2 separate regions of the Homo sapiens genome follow, and region 1 is linked to region 2. Evidence: fine-mapped expression QTL. Tissue or cell type: whole blood. Region 2 holds a variant in brackets; the other region holds the start of a gene. All regions are shown on one strand. Distances are from middle to middle.

Region 1 (2,622 bases), 220 kb before region 2:
GCACAATGGCTCAGGCCTGTAATCCCAGCACTTTGGAAGGACGAGGCAAACAGATCACTTGAGGCCAGGAGTCTGACACCAGCCTGGCCAAAATAGCAAAACCCGTCTCTACAAAAAATACAAAAATTAGTTGGGTGTAGGGGTGCGTGCCTGTAGTCCCAGCTACTCCAGAGTCTGAGGCAGGAGAATCGCTTGAATCAGGAGGTGGAGGTTGCAGTGAGACCAGATTGTGCCACTGCACTCCAGCCTGGGTGACAGAGCGAGACTCAGTCTCAAAAAAAAAAAAAAAAAGGACAGCGTCAGCGTCTTTCACCTCCTCCGGAGTTTGGCGCATGGTAGGGGTTCAATCAGTGTTCTCTGGACAGTGTTTCAACAGAACAACCTTGCAAGGGAGCTTCACCGGCTTTCTCCCCAAGATGTCTTCATTCCAACCTACCAACATAACAGCAGCTGCCACTTATGTATTGTGCTACTGTGTGCGAAGCTGTGGGATCTGGTGCCTTTTATGGTAAGATTGTAGGCCTCATTTTACAGGAAGGAAACTGAGGCTCAGAGAGACTGGCAGGACCAAGATTAGACACTCGTATCCATCTGGCCCCCAAAAGCAGGATTTTAACAGCTAAGAATATGGTCTCAGTTCCACAGGCCCACCCCAGGGCTCCTGAACCCCAATTCGAGGCTGCATGCCCTCAAACCAGTTCCCTCACTCCTTCAGCCTGATGCTTTGGGGCATCTTGTCCAGGAGGCCTTCCCCCTTTAATCTCTATCTCTTGTACTTGTGACTATCTTGTAACTTACACTGGCGCCCTCCATACACAATTCACATATGCCCCCAAGGGGCCTCAGAATAAATGGTGGCGAGGAGAAAAAAGCATTGGCAGGAGGGGAATGGAGGCAGGCACCTGGACTGCGGGCACAGGCGGGAAAATTCAGATCTAGGCGCTTGGCCTGCTCCCCGCAGGGGCGCAGTTCCCGGCGCGGCCACCAGATCGCGCCCGGCTCTCTCGGGCGGGGCTTGCAGTAAGGCTGTGTGGCCGCCAGATGATGCCCGAGACCGCGGCTCCGCGGGTAGTGCCCCGACAAGGTGGAGCCCGGCGGGCCCGCGAGTCCGAGACCTGTCCCAGGAGCTCCAGCTCACGTGACCTGTCACTGCCTCCCGCCGCCTCCTGCCCGCGCCATGACCCAGCCGGTGCCCCGGCTCTCCGTGCCCGCCGCGCTGGCCCTGGGCTCAGCCGCACTGGGCGCCGCCTTCGCCACTGGCCTCTTCCTGGGTGAGCAGGACCTGGTCCCGGCGGGCGGGTGGGCGGGCGCAGAGTAGGGCGCGGCGTGGCTCAGGTTAATCCAACACCCTCTCCCCGTCAGGGAGGCGGTGCCCCCCATGGCGAGGCCGGCGAGAGCAGTGCCTGCTTCCCCCCGAGGACAGCCGCCTGTGGCAGTATCTTCTGAGCCGCTCCATGCGGGAGCACCCGGCGCTGCGAAGCCTGAGGCTGGTCAGCAGGGCGCGGGACGGAAACGGGCGTCCCTCTCGACCCCTGCGGGTCCCACGTGGCTGTGTGACCTTGGGCTGGGCCCTGGCCCTCCCTGGGCTTCCGGCTTCCCTGGGCCGGGTGCGGTGGGCGTTCCGAAGGGCCAGTCCCCCAGGCCACGCCCAGAACCGCGCCCCTGGGGCTTGGGACCCCCAGGGCGAAGGTGGGTGACCTGCATGGCTGGTGCCACCCTCTCCTTTCACGCAGCTGACCCTGGAGCAGCCGCAGGGGGATTCTATGATGACCTGCGAGCAGGCCCAGCTCTTGGCCAACCTGGCGCGGCTCATCCAGGCCAAGAAGGCGCTGGACCTGGGTAGGGGCACGCGGCCGGGATCCCGGAGGGCCGAGGTTTCCGGGCCGACCCCCACTCTGGGCTGAGCCCGTCTGTGTCCTGGTCCCAGGCACCTTCACGGGCTACTCCGCCCTGGCCCTGGCCCTGGCGCTGCCCGCGGACGGGCGCGTGGTGACCTGCGAGGTGGACGCGCAGCCCCCGGAGCTGGGACGGCCCCTGTGGAGGCAGGTGAGCGCCCGCGCCTAGCTCTGCAGCCCCAGGCGGGGGCGCAACGGCTGACCCGCTCCCTCCGCAGGCCGAGGCGGAGCACAAGATCGACCTCCGGCTGAAGCCCGCCTTGGAGACCCTGGGTGAGCACCGAAGCGGGAAGGGCTTTGAAGCCATTCATTGCAAACGAGGCTGCTGTGTGGCCGAGCTGTGACTGGGCCTGCCGGGCAGGTTAAGGGCAGGGCCGGTTGTCACAGAGCCCGGGCCGGCCTGGGAGGGGCCTCAGGGCCGCCGGGGCCGCGGACTCAGCCGCACCTGCCCTCCCTCCCCCCGCAAGACGAGCTGCTGGCGGCGGGCGAGGCCGGCACCTTCGACGTGGCCGTGGTGGATGCGGACAAGGAGAACTGCTCCGCCTACTACGAGCGCTGCCTGCAGCTGCTGCGACCCGGAGGCATCCTCGCCGTCCTCAGAGTAAGGGATCCACTGCGGGGGAGGAGAAAGCACCCTGTCGGGCCGGGTCCCCATCTTTTCCCTTGACTCCTCTTATACCCCAAAGCCCCACCCAGTCCAGTCACGTAGGCTACACCCCCTCCGGGG
Region 2 (2,753 bases):
ATTTGAGTCCTTTATCACTACATTACATGCTCACTGGCAAGGAGCACTTTAAGCAAGTTCATAAACACAAAGAATCAATTGACACTGCAGCCTTGGAGCTCAGCACCGAATTTGATCTGATTACATGCTCTCAGTAGTGAAAAATGCTGCTTTGTAATCAATGATAAATGTTTCATTTTTCATACTCAATTCAATAAAATTATCATGTCTTACCATGCAACCTCAGTTAGGATAAATTAGTGCCATATCATTTCACATGCTATCTCTACATAACCAAGCTTTTGACAACGATCTTAATGACTTTCTTAGCTTAAGAATGCTACAAGATTGAAGTTACACAACTTAGGATGATAAAGACAATCATTACCTCTTTCTCAGCTTCTCGCTCTTCTTCAGACACTGCAGCATTAGAAATTAAAATTGGGGTCCACCTCAGACTGTCTGGATCAAGTTCATTGGCTCTGGAACAGGTTTTCAGCTTTTCCATGTGGCTCAATATCAACTTTTCCCGTCTAATGATGACAAATCTGTAATGTGATAAGGCAGAACAAGATGTAATCACAAGCTGAAATTTCACTTCAGCTTCACATACGGACATATGCTAGCACTAATGTTATCTGCGTTAGGAAAAATCAGAAAGCACCTCAATGAGAGGGTACAGAACACTGGAATCCAACCAGTAAAAAAGTGTCATTTCATGTGTTATTTTTAGGAGAAAAGGTTTGATAATACTGTTAGGGAACCTCAGTCTTTAACTGGAATGAATGCACCTATCTCCAGGGACCCTTTCTGGTGTGGGATGCCTGAGCCACGGAGCTGCCCAGGGTCCCAGGACTCACCTGCCATCTCTCTTGTCGATCATGTGGAGGTGCTGCAGAGTGGTGGCAATGTCATGTGGGCACATGCCCGTCGCTCTGCTAATTGCCTTGATGCTGATGTGCCTCTCATGGTGGTGGTAGAGATACTCCAAGATGACGCTCTTCCAATATGCCAGGTAGGAGAGACGGCCCAGATCGGAGAGAGGCTTTTCAGGAGACCCTGCTTGGCCTTCTCTTCTAGAAAGCAAATAGCCTAGGGCAGAAAAAATAAATGGGCATTCCTCACTGTGGCATTCCCAGAGCTTAGAA[C/A]AGGAGCCACTAGAAATAATATGAGTAGTGACAAGGTAAAAACATCACAACAGAGAAGTGCATTCGCTTTAGGAATGTAGCCTCTTCCCAGTTATAGTGATTTGATCTCCGTGAAGTTTACGCTCCTGAATCTTTGACAGTGGCACTCTAAGTCAATTCACGCAGCTAGCAGCAGCATTCCAAACACATATTGTGACATATTTAACAAAGACTAAAAGCTATGGTTGAAGACATTACTCCTGCTAAGTCTCAACATCTAAGTCTCCCACAGCTTTAGATTCTTTCAAAAACGAAATGTCAGGCACTTACTCAGAAATCCTGTCGAGGGACCACCCCCAACATTAATGGGCAAGTTGTTTTCCACAGGAAGGACCTAATGACCCTTTGACAGCTGGGTCTTAATAAAAAGAGAAGGACCTCTGTTGACTCAGAGTCTATATTGCTTGTTACATTTAACTAGCAGGTTGATCTGAAGCTTTGTTTTAGGACTAATAAAAGAATGTCTTTCAAGTCAACTGCTGCAACTCCCATCAGCTCCACTAGCTCCATTTTCACCTCTTTCATAGAAATTAATTTACAATCCAATCCCAGAATATTGCTCCTACAAATTAAGACAAAACAAAACAAACTCCTTAAAACAACCTATTGCATGTATGCTCAGAAAATCCCCCAGCATCTTAAGCTTTTGAACGCATTTTACAGCATTACTGTGAAGGTTCCTTGGCAAAGGAACTTTAAAAATGGAAAAAAAAAAAAAAAAAGAAACCAGCCCTTTAAATCCACTTGAAGGTAATGAATGAAAGCTGGCGGCTGTCTCAGTAATTAAGAGCCACTTATGGGGTAGAAAAGAAATGCTATAAGCTAATGATGTCTACCTTGCTCTAATTATCTATTTCAACAGCCTCACCTTCATGAACTTCCTAAGTTTAAACAAACATCAACCACATACAGTAGGTGGCAGCAATGACAAAATCATACGGCTCCATAAACCACCCAAATCTTCAGCATTTTTCTTCTTTATCTACATTTCCAAAATGGCTGCATTCTCAAGAATTTTCTCAATTTTAGGGTTATTTTTTGTTAAAGAAGAAATCAATGCCTCTGATGCATTTTCCTGCATCTCAAAATCACTGCAAATACAGTAATGCAGAAATACAAAACAAGAATCCAGCCTGAACCCTCGAAGGGTATAATCACAGCATTTTGCATTTTGATGGCTTTAATCTGAATGCCATTATGAAGAATAGGCGTAAATTTAACTTCAGGTTTTGCTAAGGTCTTTTGACTTATTTGTCTCTTTAACCCATGTTTAAGTGCAAAGTATTTGACTGAATGCAAACAAGCACCGCAACATTTTACAGTGAAACCACTGTCTACATGTAATTTGGCAGCAGATTGGGGCTTTCAATAGCAGTGTGTCAGGAATGCTAACACAGTGATGGCCACTGTGCCGAAGCCAGCCCATATTGTGTCCTGTCAACACGAAGAAGAGCTCTCTACGTCTCTGTGTTGCCAGAGTATGAAGGGAGCCCACACCTCAGAATACAGATAATTGGCACATCCGTCACCTGCCTCCAAAGTGCTTGGCACATGCTGAGAAACGTACCCAGGAGGCTGGGGGGTCCC

The links. PIP is the estimated chance that this variant, and not a neighbour inherited with it, causes the effect.
Region 1: COMTD1 starts here. The variant in region 2 is fine-mapped to the expression of COMTD1 in whole blood (TOPMed, PIP above 0.99).

What each region holds. Positions count from the first base shown.
Region 1 is chr10:75,234,484-75,237,105 of GRCh38, reverse strand. It overlaps COMTD1 (catechol-O-methyltransferase domain containing 1), which reads left to right and starts at 1,149. Exons shown (of 7, transcript NM_144589.4): 1 at 1,149-1,271; 2 at 1,363-1,490; 3 at 1,734-1,839; 4 at 1,928-2,046; 5 at 2,114-2,168; 6 at 2,363-2,496. The coding sequence starts at 1,178. RefSeq lists silencers at 901-1,195, 1,231-1,370, 1,531-1,610, 1,741-2,030, 2,191-2,420.
Region 2 is chr10:75,018,900-75,021,652 of GRCh38, reverse strand. KAT6B (lysine acetyltransferase 6B) reads right to left here. Exons shown (of 18, transcript NM_012330.4): 14 at 840-1,071; 15 at 368-527. Among named protein-coding and RNA genes, the nearest start is that of SNORD172, 1.5 kb to the left of the region's middle. The variant C/A (reference allele first, on the strand shown) is at 1,128.